Homo sapiens: one gene and its partners. The protein of the gene in region 1 interacts with the protein of each later gene in a pairwise test. Each region holds a gene or a part of one and is shown in the gene's direction. Other genes may lie near its edges.

Region 1 (7,572 bases):
CTCCCTCCCTTTCAGCAGGCTATCTCTGGCAGTGGCTCCTTCCCTCTACCTGCTGGATGGCCCCTCTTTCATGGTCCCAAGCTCACTAGGCTCCAATAACATGATTGCCTCCTCTTTTCAACCCTAGGGATGGTCATCATTTCCTGCTGTTACTAGGCTCTAGGTGCCTCAAGTTCCCTCTTAACTCTGCCCATACCTCTATAAGGAATTTCTCCATTAAAGCATCATCCTTTGAACCATCTGGGTTAAAGTCTGTTTCCTGATGGACCCATGACTGATTCACAGGTCTTTGGACAAAAACGGCAACACTTGCATATTCAATAGTCATCGATTATAAGATACATCTGGCTTTCAGAAATGTTACAATATCATCAAAAAGTATGGCTTACTATAAAGAAATGATGGCAGGTTCATTCAGGCATGATGGATATAGAGGACAGTGTATCATTAAGAGATGTAAGTTGGGCACAGTGGCTCATGCCTGTAAACCCAGCAATTTGGGAGGCCAAGGCGGGCTGATCACTTGAGGCCAGGAGTTTGAGACCAGCCTGGCCAACACGGTGAAACTCCATCTCTACAAAAAACACAAAAATTAGCCGGGTGCAGTGACGTGTGCCTGTAATCCCAGCTACTTGGGAGGCTAAGGCAGGAGAATCACTTGAACTTGGGAGGCAGAGGTTGCAGTGGGCCGAGATCACGACACTGCACTCCAGCCTGGGAGACAGAGGAAGACACTGTCTCCAAAAAAAAAAAAAAAAAAAAAAAAAAAAAAAAAAAAAAAAAGATGGAGTTTGCTCCTAAACTTACAAGGTTGGAAGCATGGCAAACAGCAAAGCGCTGGGTTTAAAGTCAGGTGAGATGGCTTTGAACTCAGGCTCTGACACTTACAGCTGGAAAATTTTGAGTAGGCTGCTGTGACACTCTGCACCTCGGCCTCCTTTCTGGCAATCCAGAGTCACTCTGCTGTCTATATCCCTTTCAGAGATGTCATGTGTAAGGACAAATGAGGCGATGTGTGTGAAAGGGCTTCATGTATCCGGTGCTGAGATGTGTGGGCCAGCACAGCTCTGAGGGGGCAGCTATTCTGGGATTCCTCATCTCTCAGGGGCCAAACACTGGCCAGGATGGACAAACAAGGAGACCGGCAAAAGTAAGGCAAGAGAGGTCTCAGAGACCCAGAGAGGCAATGAGAAGACAGCTCACCTACCCTTTTCTTCCCAGCTCATCTACCCTTTTCTTCCCACCCCAGCTTCCCTCTTCCCCTTCCCTTCCCTCACTTGACATGGCCTCTTCTCTAAGCTGAGGGATGCCGCTGAGGCTATTTGTTCAGTGGAGAATTAAGGCGCACCTCTAAGTGTAGGATAAAGTCATGCACCAGATAAAGACCATGCCTTTCAAGACCAGTAAGAGAGAGACAAAGACATTCCAACAGGAGGCAGGTCATGCCATGTCCTGGGGAAAAAGAAGAGCCTGGTGTCGGAGAATCTCAGCTGCACTCCTAACAGATCACTAACTCACTAACCAGTTCCCCTGGACAAGTTATTCAATCTCACTGTCTTCTTCTGCAACCAGGGAATAATACCCACCTCCAGCGTTTGCTGTGAGAATTTCACAGAACAAGCCCTGTATTCAGCATGGTGCCTGGCTCTGATTTTAGCACTCAATAAAGGGTCACCTCTATTTTTAGCATTCCAGGGAGCCAGAGGACCCTTTCTAACTGGATGATTCTGGAATGATTTCCCAAGGAGAGGGCACTTGGAGACTGAATTCTCTGTATGGCAGGCACAGTTCGCTGAGGCACTCGCTCAACCGGGGGAGGTCAGTCCCGCAGCAGCACCAGGGCACAGCGCTGTGTGTCCGGCGCTGGGGGGACTGAAAGGGGGTGAGCGGGCTGCGGAACGCAAGCCTCCCGGCGGGCAGAGGGAGCCAGCACGAGTTCTGGAGTAGGAGAGGGCCGGGATCAAAGCGCTCTGAGGCAGGCCAGGGCGCACCAAAGGGAGGCTAGTGAATTGCATCAGCACAGATTCCGTGATGCTCTGCAGACGTCTCCAGGCTGCTGGGCTTTACGGGAACCCACAAGAAAGGAAAGGACCGGGGAGCTGGCAGGGCGAGGGCGGGCGAGGGCGCGAGGGTGCGCTCGCCCGCGCGCTCCCGGCGGCGCCTGGCCGGGGCTGGGCGCGCCCGGGACTGCGGAGGCCGCGGAGGAAGCTCCCGCTCCCCTTCCCCCGCCTCTTTCCCCCCGCGTTACTGGAAGGACTGTGTGGGAGAGACCCAGAAGCACCCGGATTTTCGACCGCCAGGTGGGGGAGGGCGGGGCAGCCTCTACTGCTCAAAGGAAAACCAAAAGTGCGTCTGTTCGCGCCGCTCCGACACGCGGTTGCTACTGGGAGGGCTCAGGCAGGGCGCTTTGGCCGCGCCTCCCTTTGCAGCCCCCAAGACTTGGCTAGGGCGGCCTGAGGCCCGCGTGGCGCGGGGAGGGGCTGAGAACCGAGTGGGAAAATGTCACGATTTCTTCTGTGCCCCTCCCGTCCCTACCCCCACCCCCAGTTTTCTGAGTTTTGCTGCTGCCGCTGGGGAAGGACTGATTCGTTTTGCGTCAAAGGACTGCATTTACTCAGTCCTGCTGGGAGAGGCGCGTAAACACCCAGGCAAGCCAGGACGCAGGGATGGGGAGGGGGAAGAAAAAAGCAAAGCACCCACGGCCGGCGCGCGCGTCCGCCTGCCCCACACCCCTCTCCTGGGCCTGCGGAGTTGGGGACTCTGTCCAGCGGGCAGCAGCGGAGGTGCGAGGAGTCTGGCTGGCCTCGCCTCGTCGCGCACGCGCGCGCGTCCTTGGGGATAGCGTTCAGGACAGAATGTGTTTTATAGCTGTAAACAATGACCCCGAGTATTGTTTGGGATTACCGTATCTTGGGGCCCTTGGGGCGGCCAGATGCCGCCAGCCGTCCCGGAAATGCCAGCGCTTTATATAGAGCCCCAGGAAAGCTTCGCGTTCCCGGCTCTATTTTTCTCTGCTACCAACACCCCCACTTTGCAGATAAGGAAACTGAGGACAGAAGTTGTGTGACGGTGCACAGCGAGTTGTCAGCAATGGACTCTCAACACCTCTTAACATTGGGTCCTCATAAGGACCCTGTGGGGTACAGATGGCTGGCGCTACTTAAGAATTGGGTAAACTGAGGCTAACACAGACCCTGGACCAAAACCTAAGTTCCCTGACTTCCGCTACAGTACTTCTCCATTCACACACACCATCATCTCAGCGGAAGGATTGGAGCTCCAGAGCAGAGAAGGGCCTAAGGTCATGTCTCCAAACTCCTTCACTTTATAGGAGGAAACTGAGGCCCAGAGAGGTTAAGGAATTCGTCCAAGATCTCACAGCTCGTAAATAGCGTAGCCGGGCGTTCCTGCTCTAAGGTCTGTGCTCTGTACCCTGCGCCGCGCCCCTCCCAGCCCCGCCCAGCGAGGGAGGAGGACCCAAATGTCCGGCAACCCGCGCCCTGAACTTCGCTCCAAAACAGCTGAAGACGACAACGTTGGGGCACACCCTCTCGCTGGCTTTTTTTTTTTTTTTTTAATTCGTAACAGTCTGGAGTTTGCTTATAAACGCCCGATTACTCTTATTAGATGCGTCCTAATTGCCCGGCGTATAGGGCGGCCGGAATGTCTTGACTGGTTAATTTCATCTTCAAGGCTACTCCTAACGAATTAACTGTAGGACCGAAAACATGAAAAACAAAAAACAAAAAGGGAACCGGTAGGCAGACCGCCACGGAGGGAAAAATAGGCAGGCCAGCCCCGCCCGGCGCCGTGCCCCGCCAACACCCGGCCGCAGGGCGGCGCGGGCACCCTGCGCGCCCGGGGCGCCCGCTGCACTCGGCGGCGCCGCGGAGGGCGCCTACGACCGCGCGCAGCCGCGCCCTCCCTGCGAGCGGCTCTGCGCGCCCGGCTCCCGGCCTCCCGGTGGCGCCGCACCGAACCGCCCGTCTCGCCGTCAGGGCTGTGATTATTTTCTAAAATCCGGAGGCGAGACCCGCGCGGCCGCTCTCGGGGCCCCGCCCCGAGCCCCTTCCCAGGGCGGGGGAGAGGCCGCAGCGCACTCGGGAGCGGGCGAGGGAATCCCTCTCCCTCCACGTCACCCGAAAGCGAGGAAACCCGCACTCGCGTCCTCTAACGCAAATGACCATCTTTGGCAACGTGCGCCAATGGAACAGACCAAGGGCGCTGGGCCCGGGGGGTGAGCGGGGGACTGGGGAGGGCCGGGGCTGCCTCGGCGCCTCCGAACCGTGCGTGGCGCCCGCTCCCGCCCGTGCCACCGCCTGGCTTCCTCGCGCGGGGTGCGCGGTTGGCGTCAGCGCGGCCGGGAGCCGGGGCTGGGAGGGGAGAGCTGCGCCCGCCTCCTCCCCTCCCGCGCCTCTTCCTCCTCCGCGGCCTCCTCCCCCCGCCTCCTCGTGCGCTCCTCCCTGCAAGGTGGAGTCTGGGGTTGACGTGAGTGAATCCACATGGTACAGGGCTGGAGAATAAAGAGTGTGAGTTGAACTCGTGCCATTGTAGTGACTCATCTCGGGCAGAGCGCTAGGGCTCCGAGCGAACCAGCGAGCGAGCGAACGAGCGGCGCTCGGCGGGGACAGAAAGAGGGAGAGAGAGAGAGAGAGAGAGGGAGAGGCGCGGCCGGGCGAGGCGGGCCCGTCCGGGAGCGGGCTCCGGGGAAGGGGTGCGGGTCTGGGCGCCGGAGCGGGGAGCGGGGCCGCGTCCCTCTCAGCGCCAGCTCTACTTGAGCCCCACGAGCCGCTGTCCCCCTGGCGCGCTCGGGGCCGCGGGACGGGCGCACGCCGCCTTCTCCTAGTCAAGTATCCGAGCCGCCCCGAAACTCGGGCGGCGAGTCGGCCACGGGAAGTTTATTCTCCGGCTCCTTTTCTAAAAGGAAGAAACAGAAGTTTCTCCCAGCGGACAGCTTTTCTTTCCGCCTTTTTGGCCCTGTCTGAAATCGGGGGTCCCCAGGGCTGGCAGGCCAGGCTCGCTGGGCTCCTAATCTTTTTTTTAATTTCCAATTTTTGATTGGGCCGTGGGTCCCCGCTGAGCTCCGGCTGCGCGCGGGGGCGGGAGGGCGCGCGCAGGGGAGGGACCGAGAGACGCGCCGACTTTTTAGAGGGAGGGATCGGGTGGACAACTGGTCCCGCGGCGCTCGCAGAGCCGGAAAGAAGTGCTGTAAGGGACGCTCGGGGGACGCTGTTCCTGAGGTGTCGCCGCCTCCCTGTCCTCGCCCTCCGCGGTGGGGGAGAAACCCAGGAGCGAAGCCCAGAGCCCGCGGCGCGGCCGGCGGACGAACGAGCGCGCAGCAGCCGGTGCGCGGCCGCGGCGAGGGCGGGGGAAGAAAAACACCCTGTTTCCTCTCCGGCCCCCACCGCGGATCATGTACCAGGATTATCCCGGGAACTTTGACACCTCGTCCCGGGGCAGCAGCGGCTCTCCTGCGCACGCCGAGTCCTACTCCAGCGGCGGCGGCGGCCAGCAGGTAGGTGCGGGCCCCGGTGCACCTGGCGGCGCGGGCGGACCCCTGCCCTCTTCTCGCCGCCACTGCCTCTTTTGCTTTCTTTTCTTTTTCTTGGCGAGAAAATACCTACGGGCCACCGTTGTAAGTTCTGGATTTTCGTCCTCCCCTTCCCCCCCACCCCCTTTTAAACTAGGGGATTGGAGAGTGGGCTTGAAGAGACAACATGCCCTTTTCCTCTCACGTTATATTTTACCCAGATAGACTCCTGGAATTGTAGGCCCCCTACCAGGAGCCTGTTACCTCCTTCCAAGAACTACTCCCCCTCCCCAGTGTCTGCCCCCCCCCCCCCACCCCTGCCCCGCGTCTTCTCTCTGGGTGGTGGACAGACAAGAAAATCTTTGCACCCACTGGCACCTCTCGACATCCTGGGACCCTATTCCTTCAGGAAAGCCCTCTCTCTCTCCTCCCCGTTCTCCATCAGTCATAACTCCTTTCTGAAAGGGGTTGGGGACCCAGAAACATGGTTGGACTCCTTCAAGTAATCTGGAGCGAGGGCGAGGGCTGCCGCTCTGGGAATCAGGTGCGAAGGTCAGGAAGGAAGAAGCCAGCCTTGGTTGGCTCATGCCGCCTGTGTGCCCCCTGCCTGCCTGCCTGCCCCCCCGCCGACCCGTCTTCTGTAAGGATCACGGACAGGAGGCTGCACTGCCCCCCAGGAACGAAGGAGCACCTTGAGGGTCTGGGGGTACCTGGAGCAAGGAGACCGGCAGAGGGAAGAGGGGGTCGGGTGGGGGAAGAGACATCACGCAGGCTCCTGGGTGGTTCTGGAAGCAGAAAACAACTTGTTTCTAAAGCAGCCGGACTGGTTTGCACTGGAGGGATTGTGCGTGTGATCTCTGTGTTTATAAATACCAGGAAGGTGCTGTTGGCGGGGGGGTGCTGATGGCGTGTCTGCCCTCTGCTGCAGCTCCCCCACCCGCTCTGTCTCGAGAGAGAGCTGGGTTAACGCAGGCCCAATACAACATGAAGCCCACCGTGGTCAGCATCTGTGGAGTCTAGCATAGTTGGCTGCAGCAAGGGATGCTCATGCTCCATAAGGCGGTGGCCTTGGCCTCTAGAAGGGGCTAGGGTGGGCTTCCAGGGAGGGGTGGACTCAGCTGGAAAGAATTTTGGAACGTGGCTCTCTTTTGGATCTGATGGGGGGGTCCCTTGTTCCAAAGTGATTCCCTATACCTGGTGAGTCCCCAAAATGGCTTTTCTGTCTTCCCTCTGCCTCCCATGGTGCTCCTATAAGCACCCACAGTAGAGACAGCCTAGTCTGTTCATTGAGGGTGCAGTCAATGCACCCTTCGTAATGAGCACCAAGGTGATGAGTTTAAAATCCGAAAAGTTGTTGATTATGTTTGCTTCCCAGCCCCGCTAGTGGTTTGTGTTGAATGTAAACATAATGAGGGAATAGGTTGAAGTCTGTACCCACTCCCTCCGTCTCCCGTTCGACAAACCCCAAACGCCTGTCTGTCTCCTCCTCCCTGAAATCAGGAAGGGATCTTTTGATTTCTTCTCTGTTCTTTTCCCTAATGTGTCTTTAGCAGTGATCATTGGAGTATTACAATCTCACTGCCTGGTTTAGCATAGACCCTGGGGCCTGGAGGGAAGTCAGACCGGACATCAGTGCCCCAACTGAATAATCTGTGTCACTAGGGCTTTGAGCCCAGGATGTGAGCGGAGGCAATTCCCGGTTTTGGAAGAAAATCAGACAGGAAACCAGTGCTAGGAAGAAGGAAGAGAACTCAGTCCAGCAGAGTGTAATAGGGCCTCATTACCGAAGCAAAAAGCAGCTGTTGGCTAATTCCTAGCATGCTGTAACACATGAGTATTTTGCAATTAGCAATAACCAGTGCACGGGGTTTCGCATAGACGCCTGCCCATTCGGCCCGGCAGTGTGTGAGGCGCCTTTCAAACCGGAGGGATTGGCAAGGTAATGCCACTTGAGACAAGTTTCTTGGCCTGTCCGCTCCTTGGTGTGGTGGTGGTTGGGTGGGGGACGAGGAGGAACTGGTGGATTTTTCTGTCATTGCTCC
Region 2 (7,406 bases), on another chromosome or scaffold:
CTTGATGCCAATAGAAAGAGTTCTTAGTTGAATGTGACAAATCCTAGCTGCTTTAAGCATAGAAGAAATTTATTGAAAGCCTGTTATGTTACATAGCTCAAGGAATAGCCATGACGTCTAAAGAATCAAGCTCAGGAAAAAGTGCAGGAACCAAGAGAGGTGAGAAATTTATAGTATTAGCTAAAATCACACATCAAAACGAATCTGAAGAGGCCACCACTGCCACACACTAGATACTGTGATTTGCAACACTGCCATTGCTGCCTCAAGAAACTGGCTTTTGCTGTTGCCACTGCTGTTGCCAGAATTCCACACTGTCCCTGCTGTTTTGTTTTGTTTTGTTTGAGACAGGATCTTGCTCTGTCTCTCAGATTGGAGTTGCAGTGGTGAGATAATGGCTCACTGCAGCCTCTGCCTCCCTGGCTCAAGCGATCCCCCCATCTCAGCCTCCTGAGTAGCTGGGACCACAGGTATGCACCACTACGCCTGGCTAATTTTTTAATTTTTTGTAGAGACGGGGTCTCACATTGTTGTCACTTTGTTGGCTGACCTCGAACTCCAGGGCTCAAGGGATCCTCCCGCCTCAACCTCTCAAAGTGCTGAGATTACAGGCATGAGCACCACGCCAAGACTGATGTTTTAAAAGGCTCACTTTGGTTTCTGCGTGGTTTTGCAAGTCTGTCCCTGGATGCTAGATTTGTGCTCATTCTTCGAATTTGAGAGAACCTATTTGAATGAAGGCAGAGAAGTTCAACTAAGAGAAGTGAAAGTTATGCAAGATCAAATTAATCAAATAACAAGCAATTTCAAGCAAAGCACGATGTCTTTCAAAGTTATCTCCTGGTCCCATCTCTACTATGGCTCAATTCTGAAACCTAGGGAGAAAGGAAATTCATTGATTATTTCCTTACTTCCTTTTGTTTATTTTTATTTATTAATTTAATTTATTTATTTGAAACAGAGTCTGGCTCTGTCGCCCAGGCTGGAGTGTGGTGGTGCAATCTCAGCTCACTGCAATCTCTGCCTCCTGTGTTCAAGCAATTCTCCTGCCTCAGCTTCCCAAGCAGCTGGGATTACAGGCGCACACCACCATGCACGGCTAATTTGTGTATTTTTGGTACAGTTGGGGTTTCACCATGTTGGCCAGGCTGGTCTGGAATTCCTGACCTCAAGTGATCTGCCTGTCTTGGCCTCCCAAAGTGCTGGGATTACAGGTGTTAGCCACTGGGCCGGCCTCCCTTTTCTTTATTTCTAATGTGTCTCTCTTTGCTAGCTCCTTTCTCATGACCTATAAGCATGTTTAATTTAATCTCTTCCATTAAAAAAAAACTACCCTCATGTCCTTTGTAGGGACATGGATGAAGCTGGAAACCATCATTCTCAGCAAACTATTGCAAGGACAGAAAACCAAACACTGCATGTTCTCACTCATAGGTGGGAATTGAACAATGAAAACACATGGACACAGGAAGGGGCACATCACACTATGGGGCCTGTTGTGGGGTGGGGGGAGGGGGGAGGGATAGCATTAGGAGATATACCTAATGTAAATGACGAGTTAATGGGTGTAGCACACCAACATGGCACATGTATACATATGTAACAAAGTTGCACGTTGTGCACATGTACCCTAAAACTTAAAGTATAATTAAAAAAAAACCACCCTATACTACCTTGTGTAAAGGTAGTAGTTACAAGCGTGATTTTTAGAGCTGAACTGCATGGGTTTGAAGTAATTGCAACATTTACCAGCTCTGTGTCCTTGGGCAATTTTTTAAATGTCTTTGTGCCTTCTTTTCCTTGCTGGTAAAAGGAGATAATATTATTTCTCATGGGGTTATTGTGAAGATTAAATTATTGAATATTTGTAAAGCTCTCAGAACAATGCCGGGCAGATAGTAAATGCTTTATGTGTTTGTTAAATAAAAATTAGTTGTTTATCAGTTTATAGCCTGCTAGAACTCTGCTGAAGGTAAAAACCGGATCTCATAATTACTAAATTTAATGAATTAATCAGTTCTTAGCTTATTTGACTTTCTATCAACCCTTGACAAGATGGACCCGTCGGTTCCTCCTGGAGTTCTCCCTTAATAAATGAATACCTCTTTCCTGGTTCTACCCATATCTCTCTGATATTTTCTACTCAATGTTCTTTTTAATTTTCTTGGGGTTCTATCTTTGATCCTCTTTCATTCTCACTTCATACCTGACAGAAAAATAAATCTGACAGAAAAAAAGGCCCAAACCATTAGCATAATATATTATAAAAGTCACTCCATGATCTAATATCTGTTGATCTCTTTAGACTCATCTCTCAGTACCCACCACATGGAATGAATAGAACTTTCCACAGTGTGTTAGTGGTGCTGCTTCCTCTGCCAAGAAATACCATTCCCACCCCTACAATTATTCCCTAATTTCTCAGGATTTAAATAATTTTTTCTTGATTCCTTGGGTGAATTTTCTCCTTTGAATCCCAAATACATTTTGTACATACCTGTATCCTCAGAACCTAACACAGCAGGAGCTCAGTATTTGTTGACAGACTAAATTACAGCACCTAAATTAATATTTTGCATGCATTTATTGTCTTCAGGCAATTGTATATGCATGGAGAAACAGATTTATTTATTAATCTTTAGGTCCCAGGTGCGAAGCATTTACTTAAATACAATAAATAGTTAAATAATTTACATTTTTCAAAATCTCTTCCGGCATTTATTTATGTTGTGGATTCTGTAATAGCTTGAACATATTTTTACCTTTGAAAATGTATTAATTTGATTTTTATTTCTACTGAAGAGCCAGTGACAAGATTTCTCTAATATTTTAAAGTAGCATTTGATTGAGCAGTATTAGGTGATAACAAGAACAATTACATTTTTCTTAAGAAATGTCATGGACACATCTTCAAGGTCATTGAACAGCATGTGGCAGGCCGGGTATGGTGGCTCATGCCTGTAATCCCAGCACTTTGGGAGGCCAAGGTGGGAGGATTGCTTGAGGCCAGGAGTTTGAGATCAGCTTGGCCAACATGGTGAGATCCCCATCTCTACAGCCCAAGAGGAGCCTGGGAGGTTAAGGCATGCCAACCTTGGCAACAGATCGAGGAAAGAAAGAAAAAAGAAAAGAAAGAAAAGAAAGAAAAAGAAAGGAAGGAAGGAAGGAAAAAAGGAAGGAAGGAAGCAAGGAAGCAAGGGAGAGAAGGGAAGGGAAGGGGAGGGGAGGGGAGGGGAGGGAAGGGAAGGGAATAGCCGGGTGTGGTGAGGGAGGAAGGCCGAGGCGGGTGGAAAGAGAGAAGTTAGGAAGAAGGAAGGAAGGGAGGGAGGGAGGGAGGAAGGAAGGAAGGAAAAGAAAGAGAGGAAGGAAGGAAGAAAGAGAGAGAGAAAGAAAGAAAAAAAGAAAGAAAGGGAAAAGAAAGAAAGAGAAAAAGAAAGAAAGAAAGAAAAGAAAGAGAAAGAAAAGAAAGAAAGGAAGAAAGGAAGGAAGGAAAAGAAATAACCAGGTGCGGTGAGGGAGGGATGCCAAGGCAGATGGAAAGAAAGAAGTTAGGAAGAAGAAAGAGAGGGTGGGAGGGAGGAAGGGAGGGAGGGAGGAAGGAAGGAAGGAAAGAAGGAAGGGAGGGACAGAGGGAGGGAGGGAAAGTGTGGGCGCTGTGGTATGAGGGTAGCACAGACGGGTAGATCACTTGAGCCCAGGAGACCAGCCTGGCCAACATGGTGAAACCCTATCTCTACTAAAAACACAAAAATTAGCCAGGCGTGGTGGCGCGCTCCTGTAATCTCAGCTACTTGGGAGGCTGACGTGGGAGAATCGCTTGAACCCCAGAGGCGGAGGTTGCAGTGAACGGAGTTGGCGCCACTTCACGCCAGCCTGGGTGACAAAGAGATACTGTGTCTCAAAAAAACAAAAAACAAAAAACAAAAACGAAAAGAAAGACAGAAAAGAAAGCGTGTGGCATTGCAAACCTGTGAATCCTCCCTAGATGTTAAATTTGTGCTCCCTCTTGGAATTTGAGAGAAGCAGAGCATCAGCCCATTAAGTCAAGATTATAAGGTTTTATTCGCCATGAATGTCAACAGCAAAGAGGAGAAATGGGTCCTAGGAACTGTGAAAGGCAAGGGCCGGAACACCACATACACTAGAAACTTGTAGCCAACTACATAGTGCTCTAGGTGGAGAGAATATTTTTAGAAAGGGGTATCGGGTGGGAGATGGGCGGGTCTTTCCTTTTTTTTTCTTCTAGCGAGCCAAGCTCCTGATAGGAGACTTGGTGAGGGGTAACGCCAAGCTCCACCCCTTGGGGCTTAGCAACACCGAAGGGAGAGGCTATGATTGGAGGATCAGGTTAGTCCACCACTCTGCTCCTCCTGCGCGGTGAGGGGGTGGTACACGCGCCCTACCTCGGAGTGTGTGGCGCCATGATGCAGGGAAGATGGCTTCGTTTCGGAAGCTAACGCTTTCTGAAAAAGTGCCGCCAAATCATCCCAGTCGGAAAAAGGTTAACTTCCTAGATATGTCTCTAGGTATGTAGATCTCGGATCCCAGTCTCCACTAGTTTGGGCTCACTGGTCTTGAGCGCAAGACCTCGGCATAGCGCTTACTAGAAGTGGCGTCGGGAGGAACACACCAGTTCGAGGAGAGGCTTCCCCTTCAGGGCATCTCCGCACCTGCCCCACCCTGACGAACCCTGGGACCACTTGGCCCCTATCCCTCCTCTCCTCTTTTTCTCCTCACCTCCAGCCCTCTCCTTTCAGGTGGGGAACTGAGGGAGGCTGACCAGAAGCGCGTGGGGATTAAGGATTGCTGAAAGGGGCAGGCGGAGAAAATAGACCGCTATTAACGTGTATTTTACTCTCCTAAGAATTGATACCTAACTACTGGCCTCCTTCAAACACATGGAGCCAAGTGCTCTTCTCAGTCCAAGCGGATGTCATAAATCACTAGATTCCAGGGCCCGGAGGAGCAAGCCTTAGGCTATTTTACTAGGGATCCCGGCGTGGTAGTGCTAGGAGTTGTTGGTGGGTTGGTGTATCTGCTTTGTTGGCTGGTGGTTATTCGAAGGGGTGGTTGGTCCATTTATTTGCTTGTTGGCTGGTGGTTATTCGCTCTGGATAGCCTTTCTTTGCTGGCGCTCTCTAGTCTCTAACCTGAGACCTCTACACGGAGAGTGGAACCTTAGAAAAAAGAACTCCTTTATCAAGGCCCCTAACCTCCTCCATTCGCACCAAACCCAGAAAAAGTGGATTTTACTTGGACCAGTTCCTCTGCTATTATCCATCTTAGAAATGGGGGAGGAGGGGAGGGAATAGACTTTCCAAGCCAGATAGGGAGTGAGCAGAGCTGAGTAGAGAGGATGGAAGCTGACTTTAGAAATGGAGAAGGGCATCAGAGCACGGAAGAAGGAAACTGTAGAAATGGGGGAAGGAGGACAAAACAGAAAAGGGCTACTTTAGTTAGGGGTGTGTGTGTGTGTGTGAAACGTGCTTGCTCTGTTTCTCAGGCAGGTGTGCAGTGGCATCATCTTGGCTCAGTGCAGCCTCCGCCCCCTGGGGTCAAGCGATCCTCCCACCTCAGTCGACAGAGTAGCTGGGACTACAGGCACGCGCCACCACACCTGTCTAGGTTTTTGTTTTTTTGTTTTGTTTTGTTTTGTTTTTTAGTAGAGCGAGGTTTCACCATGTTGCCCAGACTGGTCTCCTGGTCTCAAGTGATCCGCCCTTCTCGGCCTCCCAAAGTCCTGGGATTACAGGCATAAGCCACCGCCCCCGGCCTAGTTAGTTATTTTTGAGATAAGGTCAGGGACTGTTGTCTGGGTTGGAGTGTAGTGGCACGATCACGGCTCACTGTGGCCTCAAGCTCTCAGGCTCAATCAAGTGATCCTACCACCTCAGCCTCTCGAGTAGCTGGAACCACAGGTGCTCACTACCATGCCCACCTAATTTTTAAATTTTTGTAGAGATTGGGTCTCCTTATGTTGCCCAGGCTGGTCTCGAACTCCTGGCCTCAAGCAATCCTCCCGGCTCGGCCTCCCAAAATGATGGGATTGTGGGCCTGAGCCACTGCGCCTGGCCAAGGGCCACTTTAGAAATGAGAGGGGGAGAGGCAGAGCAGTGGGAGCTGAGCTTCAATGTGGAAGCGCAGGAGTGGAGCAAGGAGAAGCAGGAACAAGGAGGGTGGACCTCAGAAATTGATGGAGCAGTGGAAAGAGGGTTCACCTTAGAGATGAGGGTAGGGGAGCAGAGCAGGGAGGGCTGAACTTTAAAAGGGGCAGGATAAGTGGAGGGAGAGTGTACCATAGAAATGAAGAGGGTCAGCTGGGCTTGGTGGCTCATTCATGTAATCCCAGCACTTTGGGAGGTTGAGGTGGGTGGCTCACTTGAGGCCAGGAGTTCGAGACCAGCCTGGCCAACATGGTGAAACCCCATCTCTACTAAAAATACAAAGATTAGCTGGGCATGGTGTTGCGTGCCTGTAGTCCCAGCTATGCAGGAGGCTGAGGCAGGAGAATTGCTTGAACCTGGGAGATGGAGGCTGCAGTGAGTTGAGATCGCCCCACTGCACTCCAGCCTGGGTGCCAGAGTGAGACTTCATCTCAGAAAAAAAAAAAAGTAATGAAATGAAGAGGGGCGCCATGGCTCATGCCTGTAATCCCAGGAGGCAGAGGTCAGGCTGGTCTTGGAACTCCTGACCTCAAGTGATACACCCACCTCGGCCTCACACAGTGCTGCGATTACAGGCGTGGGCCACCTCACCCGGCCTAAACTTTCTTTATAGTGTCCTTTGAAGTCCCGAAGTTTCAGAATTTGATAAAATACAATTTATCTGTTTTTTGTTGTTGTTCATGCTTTGGTGTCAAATCTAGAAGATCATGAAGATCATACCCTTGTTTCCTTCTGAGAGTTTTCTAGTTTTAACTCTTAAATTTACATCTGTGATCCATTTTGAGTTAATTCTTGTATATGGGGTGAGTTAAGAGCCAACTTCATTCTGTTGCATTTTGATGTCTAATTGTTCCAACACTACTTGTTAAAAAGACTAATTTTCCTCCATTGAAAGCTCTTCTTGGTGGAATTGCTTTCTTAATTTCGTTTTTGGATAGTTCATTGCTGGTATATGTACATAGAATTAATTTTTGCATATAGATCTTGTATCCTGCAGCCTTGCTGAGTGTGTTCATTAGTGCTAATCTCCGTGTGTGTGTGTGTATCTTTAGGAATTTCTGCATACAAGATCATGATATCTGAGAACAGAGATTTACTTTTTTCTAATCTGCTTGCCTTTCATTCTTTTTCTTGACTAATTGCTCTGGATGGAATTTCTAGCAAAATGTTAATTAGATGCGGTGAGATTGGACATCCTTGACTTGTTTCTGATCTTAGGGAGAAAAGCTTTCAGTTTTTCAC
Region 3 (7,022 bases), on another chromosome or scaffold:
GATCCCATCTCTACAAAAAGATTTTTTTTTTTTTTTTTTTTTTTTGAGACGGAGTCTCACTCTGTCGCCCAGGCTGGAGTGCAGTGGCACGATCTCGGCTCACTGCAAACTCCGCCTCCCGGGTTCAGGCCATTCTCCTGCCTCAGCCTCCCGAGTAGCTGGGACTACAGGCACCTGCAACCGCGCCCAGCTAATTTTTTGTATTTTTAGTAGAGATGGAGTTTCACTGTGTTAGCCAGGACGTCTCGATCTCCTGACCTCGTGATCCACCCGCCTCCGCCTCCCAAAGTGCTGGGATTACAGGTGTGAGCCACCGCGCCCGGCCAAGATTTTTTTTGTTTGTTTGTTTGAGACGGAGTCTTGCTCTGTAGCCAGGCTGGAGTGCAGTGGTGCGATCTCGGCTCACCATGATCTTGACTCACCGTGATCTCGGCTCACCGCATCCTCCGCTTCCTGGGTTCAAGTGATCCTCTTGCCTCAGTCTCCTGAGTAGCTGGGACTACAGGCACGTGCCACCACTCCCAGTTAATTTTTGTATTTTTAGCAGATACTGGATTTCACCATATTGGCCAGGATGGTCTCGATCTCTTTACCCATGATCTGTCCACCTCAGCCTCCTAAAGTGCTGGGATTACAGGTGTGAGTCACCGCGCCCGGCCTACAAAAAGATTTTTAAAAATTAGCTGACTGTGGCCGGACATGGTGGCTCACGCCTGTAATCCCAGCACTTTGGGAGGCCTATGCGGGCGGATCACCTGAAGTCAGGAGTTTGAGACCAGCCTGATCAACATGGAGAAACCCCGTCTCTACAAAAAATACAAAATTAGCCAGGCCTGGTGGCGCATGCCTGTAAACCCGGGTACTCGGGAGGCTGGGGCAGGAGAATTGCTTGAACGTGAAAGTCGGAGGTTGCCGTGAGCCGAGTTAGCGCCATTGCACTCCAGCCTGATCAACAAGAGCGAAACTGTGTCTCAAAAAAAAAAAAATTAGCCAACTATGGTGGCAACTGCCTGTACTCCCAGCTGCTTGGGAGGCTGAGGTGGGAGTTTCACTTGAGCCCAGAAGGTTGAGGCTGCAGTGAGCCATGATGATGCCACTGCACTCCAGCCTGGGCAACAGAGTATGACTCTTTCTCTACCAAAAAATTAATAAAGTCATCAACTGAGAAGCCATGTGGTGGCGAGCCTCTATAGTCCTAGCTACTCAGGAGGTTGAGGTGGGAGGATTGCTGGAGTCCAGGAATTTGAATTTGGCCTAGGCAACATAATGAGACCCCTGTCTCTTAAAAAAAAAAATTTTGAAAAGGTCATTAACTCAGCGTCCAAACACTAGTCTGTGATCTTGTCTCAAATCTAGTAGTAAGATGACATAACAACATTTTAGATGTGACTTTTCTTCCAAGCAGAAAGAAAGCAGTTGTTGGTGGCCAGGTATGGTGGCTCATGCCTGCAATCCCATTACTTTGGGAGGTGGGTTGATCGCCTGAGGTCAGGAGTTTGAGACCAGCCTGGCCAAGATGGCCAAAGCTTGTCTCTACTAAAAATAGAAAAAGTTGGTCAGGCGTGGTGGCGGGTTCCTGTAATCCCAGCTACTCGGGAGGCTGAGACAGGAGAATCGCTTGAACCCAGGAGGCAGAGGTTGCAGTGAGCCGAGATCGCGCCACTGCCCTCCAGCCTGGGCAACAAGAGCCAAACTCCCTGTCAAAAAAAAAAAAAAAGAAAGCAGTTGTTGGACAGTGGGTTGGCCATTCTTAGAACGACTTGGAGGCTTATTTTATTCTGGGTTGTTCTAAAAAGGACAGGACATTTACTGGTCATATGTGATAAAATAAATAGTCTATTAAATGAAATCTAATTATTGTTAATCATTGATGCCCTATGGATAATGTCAAAAGTCATCAGACTGGGGATGGTGGCTCATGCCTGTAACCCCAGCACTTTGGTAGGATGAGGCCGGCGGATCACTTGAGGTCAGGAGTTCGAGACCAGCCTGGCCAACATGGTGAAACTTCTTACCTACTAAAAATACAAAAATTAGCCAGGTGTGGTGGTGTGCGCCTATAGTCCTGGCTACTTGAGAGGCTAAAGCAGAAGAATCGCTCGAACCTGGGAGATGGAGGTTGCAGTGAACCGAGATCACACCACTGCACTCCAGCCTGGGTGACAGAGTGAGACTCTGTCTCAAAAAAAGAAAAAACAAAGCCATCAGTCTTGTAATTAAACGTGATTTGTCTTTATCCACATGCAGTTTTGTGCGTTACTATCTCTGTACTAACTCCTGTCCGTGTTCTCTGCCCGTAATGTTGAAGCCACAGCTGCCACAGGTCACTACCAGCCTCCGCCTTGTGGCATTGGAATGAGTGGTGAGAGAGAGGCTGGACTGGGCCGGGCAACCCCTTACTCCGAAATAAAAAGAGGGTTGAGTACAAGTTCAATAATAAGTCAGGTCTAGTGTTTTCTCAAGTCTGACTGAAGAAACACAAAGTGGTCTCCTGACCCCTACTACTTCCAGTGTGCTTTTTGTATCCCGAGGATATTGGGTGTGCCAAACACACGGATTTATTTCCTATTTCTAATTTTAAGTATCCTGACCATTCCTATCCATTCTCCTGTCTGATCATCCTTTACCTGGCCTCCTACTTGGATGTGCTCAACCAACCTCTGGTTGTGTTTTGTGCTGATTAACTTCGAGTAGTCTCCCAGGCTTCCTAGAGTTGTTTCTCTTTTTTTTTTTTCAGGTGGAGTCTTGCTCTGTCGCCCAGGCTGGAGTGCAATGGCGCGATCTTGGCTCACTGCAACCTCAGCCTCCCAGGTTCAAACAATTCTCATGCCTCAGCCTCCCAAGTAGCTGGGATTACAGGCGTGCACCACCATGACCGGCTAATTTTTGTATTTTTAGTAGAGACAAGATTTCACCATGTTGGCCAGCTTGGTCTCGAACTCCTGACCTCAAGTGATCCACCCGCCTCGGCCTCCCAAAGTGCTGGGATTACAATAGGCGTGAGCCACCTTGCCTGGCCTAGAGTTGTTTCTCATGCAAACCTAATGGGTTCTTTGTTTAACATTTGCAGTGGCTCCCTATTGCTCTTAGGATAAAATCCAGACTCCTTAGCATAGCTCTAAGGCCCTTCCTATTCCTAGGCCCCATTAATCGTTATCATCTCTAACCACCACTACCACCACTGCCATCTAGTTTAGTTATAGGTATAAATCTGTATGGATTCAAAGTCCTCTTTAGCCTATTTCTGTCTCTCTCTCTTTTTTTTCCATGTCATAAGTTTATTTACAAACATCTAGTATGTCATATAAGTTCAAGTCTTTGATCCATTTATTTATTTATTTTTAATAGAGACAGGGTCTCTGTGTTGCCCAGGCTGGTTTCGAACTCCTGGGCTCAAGCGATCCTCACGCCTCAGGTTCCCAAAGTGCTGGGATTACAGGCGAGAGCCACTGTGCCCAGGCTTATTTTTCTTTCTTTTTTTTTTTCTTTTTTTTTTCTGTGATGGAGTTTCACTCCTGTTGCCCAGGCTGGAGTGCAATGGCGCGATCTTGGCTCACTGCAACCTCTGCCCCCCAGGTTCAAGCGATTCTCTTGCTTCAGCCTCCTTACTAGCTGGGATTACAGGCATGTACCACCACATCCGGCTAATTTTGTATTTTTAGTAGAGATGGGGTTTCTCCATGTTGGTCAGGCTGGTCTCTAACTCCTGACCTCAGGTGATCCGCCCGCCTTGGCCTCCCAAAGTGCTGGGATTACAGGCAGGAGCCACCATACCCGGCCCGGCTTATTCACTTTTTAAACAGATTTCATCTATTAAAACACCTCCAGTCTGGGCGTGGTGGCACACGCCTGTAGTCCCAGTTACTTGGGAGGCTGAGGCAGGAGAGTCGCTTGAACCCAGCAGGCGGAGGTTGCAGTGAGCCAAAATCGCACCACTGCACGCCAGTCTGGGCAAGAAGAGCGAAACTCCGTCTCAAAAAACAAAGAAACAAAAAGCCTGCCGGGCACGGTGGCTCACGCCGGTAATCCCAGCACTTTGGGAGGTCGAGGCAGGCGGATCATGAGGTCAGGAGATCGAGACCATCCTGGCTAACACGGCGAAACCCCGTCTCTACTAAAAATATGAAAAAATTAGCCGAGTGTGGTGGCAGGCGCCCGTAGTCCCAGCTACTTGGGAGGCTGAGGCAGGAGAATGGCGTGAACCCGGGAAGTGGAGCTTGCAGTGAGCCAGGATGGCGCCACTGCACTCCAGCCTGGGCGACAGAGCGAGACTCCATCTCAAAAAACAAAAAACCTGCTCTTCCTATCTGTTAAGTGGATGAACTAAAACATCCTTGTTTCTTAAGCAGTTGGTGTCTTGCTATTAAAAAAGGTGCTGTGAATCCAGATCCAAAGTACAAAGTCATCCTAGTTAGTAACCGCCATTTGTTTTCCACTGAAAGTGGCAAATGCTTTCCTGGGCAGCTTAGCCAGTTTCTGCAGCTTAACAGCTGATGCCTAGAAGTTCTTCCCCGACCTTCTTAGATTGATTTGTCATTGGTTCTCAGCAGGGGACACTTTTACTTCCCAGGGGACATTTGGCAATGCCTGGAGACGGGGAGTTCTCTACTGGCATCTAGTGGGTGGAGACCTCCTGAGTTTCTGGTGAATGTCTGGAGTAGGGCTTGAACATCTGTGTTTTCATCAGTCTAATGATGCTGTTGGTCCAGGGAGCGCAGTCTTGAGAACTGCTCCTTAAGTAGATACCCAAGGCTGCAAGATAGAGGGAAAAGAATGTGGGGAGTTGTTAAGCATTAAATGTGACAGAAAAATATGAAAATATGAAAATACCTAGCAAATGGTAAGTGCTCATGTGGCATAAGAGGGGGGAGCTGAATCCCTTTTTAATCATCTCCCAGTCAGGAGTATTATTCCTTTAGTGGTTTACTGAGACCACTCCAGTAGTATAAGCGAGGAGAATCAGCCTCATCCAATACTCTGACATAGTTTAATATTAATTGAATACTGTGGCTTCCTTAGCCATTATTGAAGTGCATTAGGGAACAGCCCTAAAGCTGTAGCCTGTGTATTAGTCTGTTCTCATGCAGCTAATAAAGACATACCTAAGACTGGGTAAATTTTAAAGGAAAGAGGTTTATTTAACTCACAGTTCAGCACGGCTGGGGAGGCCTCAGCGATCGTGGCGGAAGGGGAAGCAAACACATCCTTCTTAACATGGCAGCAGGAAGAATGAGCAAAAGGGTGAGCCCCTCATAAAACTATCAGATCTCATGAGAACTTACTATCGCGAGACCAGCATGGAGGTAACCGCTCCTGTGATTCAGTTACCTCCCATCAGGTCCCTCCCATGACACGTGGGGATTATGGGAACTAAAATTCTAGTTGAGATCTGGGTGGGGACACAGCCAAACCTTATCAGTTTGTTTGTTCCTTCACAGATATAGCCTGGTGGGTCATGTACTCACAGTTTTCTTTTGTTGAGAACATTCCCAGAGTGATTTTCTTTGTTTTTTCCTTTTTAGGAACAAAACATAACCCTTTCATTTGTACTGCCTCCTTCCACACGAGTGCCCCTTTGGCCAAAGAAGATTATTATCAGATATTAGGAGTGCCTCGAAATGCCAGCCAGAAAGAGATCAAGAAAGCCTATTATCAGGTCTGTATGGAAGTCAGGTTTTGGTGACCAAATTGTAGTAGGAATGTTGTTGATCCCATGTGATCCTGATCAGTACAGCGTATGTGCCCATATGAATAGGTCTCATGAGCTGATAGTATAGAAGGGTGTGATAAAGCTGGACTTTGCTAGACTGTTTTTCGATGCACAATGCTGTAGAGGTTGGTGCTTCAGAAAAAAGAGGTGAGTCCAAACCAGAGATTTTAAGAAGTTTTTTTTTCTAGAGCTGTTTTCATAATTAAATTTAATCTGTATTTTCTGAATCAGTAGATATGCTAGTCTAAGTTTTAGGTAGTTATTTTTTGCATCCAGATAAAAGTTTAGAGGTTTAGAATTACTTCCTTTCCTTTCTTTTTTTTTTTTTTTTTTTTTTTTTTTTGAGATGGAGTCTCACTCCATTGCTGAGGCTGGAGTGCAGTGGCGCAATCTTGGCTCACTGCAACCTCTGCCTCCTGGGTTCAAGCAGTTCTCCTGTGTCCGCCTCCCAAGTAGCTGGGACTATAGGCACCTGCCACCACACCCGGCTAATTTTTTTTGTATTTTTAGTAGAGACGCGGTTTCACTTTGTTGGTCAGGCTGGTCTTAAACTCCTGACCTCAGGTGATCCACCTGCCTCAGCCTCCCAAAGTGCTGGGATTACAGGCGTGAGCCACCGCGCCTGGCCCTTTCTTAACCTGGAAAATGTGAAATTCCCATTGTATCCCAGGGTCTATTAGGGTAGTTAGGGTAGCTGAGTAAAGTTGTATACGAGATGTCTACACCACTGGTTCCTAGACCCTTGGTTTGCTCTGACCAACAAAATAAAATCAATATTGGAGGCACCATTGTAGGATTGACAGCTTTTTATAAGTGCACAGTTCACTGGAGTTGTGCACCTGTCACCACAGTCAACTTTAGGACATTTTCATTACCTCGAAAAGAAACTCTGTATTCATTAGCACTCCCCTTCCATTGTCCTCTCTCCCCGGTCCCTAGCAGCTGCTAATCTGCGTCCTGCCTCTTTGGATTTGCCTATTCTCAATATTCATATACAGGGAATCATACAATATGTATCCTTTTGTGTGTCTTGGCTTCTTTCATTCACATAATGTTTTCAGGGTTCATCTGTGTTATAGTTTGTGTCAATACTTCATCCCTTTTTATGGTCAAATAATCTGTTGCATGGATTAATCACATTTTGTTTATTCATCGTTTGATGGACATTTGGATATTTTCCACTTTTTGCTATCATGAACAGTGCTGCTATATAGACATTCATATGTAAGTTTTTGTGTAGACATGTTTTCAGTTCTCTTGGATATTTAGGAGTATAGTTGCTGAGTCATATGGTAACTGGATGTTTAACCTT

The links. The genes of interacting proteins can lie anywhere in the genome.
Region 2: the proteins of FOSL2 (region 1) and LUZP4 interact in binary tests that used the Homo sapiens proteins (3 or more experiments, as listed by UniProt).
Region 3: the proteins of FOSL2 (region 1) and DNAJA3 interact in binary tests that used the Homo sapiens proteins (3 or more experiments, as listed by UniProt).

Annotation. Positions count from the first base shown.
Region 1 is NC_000002.12:28,388,308-28,395,879, forward strand, and holds the start of FOSL2 (fos-related antigen 2), read left to right. Parts: upstream 1-4,550; 5' UTR 4,551-5,413; coding exon 5,414-5,515; intron 5,516-6,240; exon of another isoform or gene 6,241-6,365; intron 6,366-7,418; exon of another isoform or gene 7,419-7,469; intron 7,470-7,572.
Region 2 is NC_000023.11:115,285,325-115,292,730, forward strand, and holds the start of LUZP4 (leucine zipper protein 4), read left to right. Parts: upstream 1-4,390; 5' UTR 4,391-4,435; coding exon 4,436-4,526; intron 4,527-7,406. UniProt on the Homo sapiens protein: Export adapter involved in mRNA nuclear export in cancer cells. Binds and enhances the RNA-binding activity of the nuclear RNA export factor NXF1. Can restore mRNA export function in cells compromised by loss of mRNA export adapters.
Region 3 is NC_000016.10:4,428,862-4,435,883, forward strand, and holds part of DNAJA3 (dnaJ homolog subfamily A member 3, mitochondrial), read left to right. Parts: intron 1-5,522; coding exon 5,523-5,656; intron 5,657-7,022. UniProt on the Homo sapiens protein: Modulates apoptotic signal transduction or effector structures within the mitochondrial matrix. Affect cytochrome C release from the mitochondria and caspase 3 activation, but not caspase 8 activation.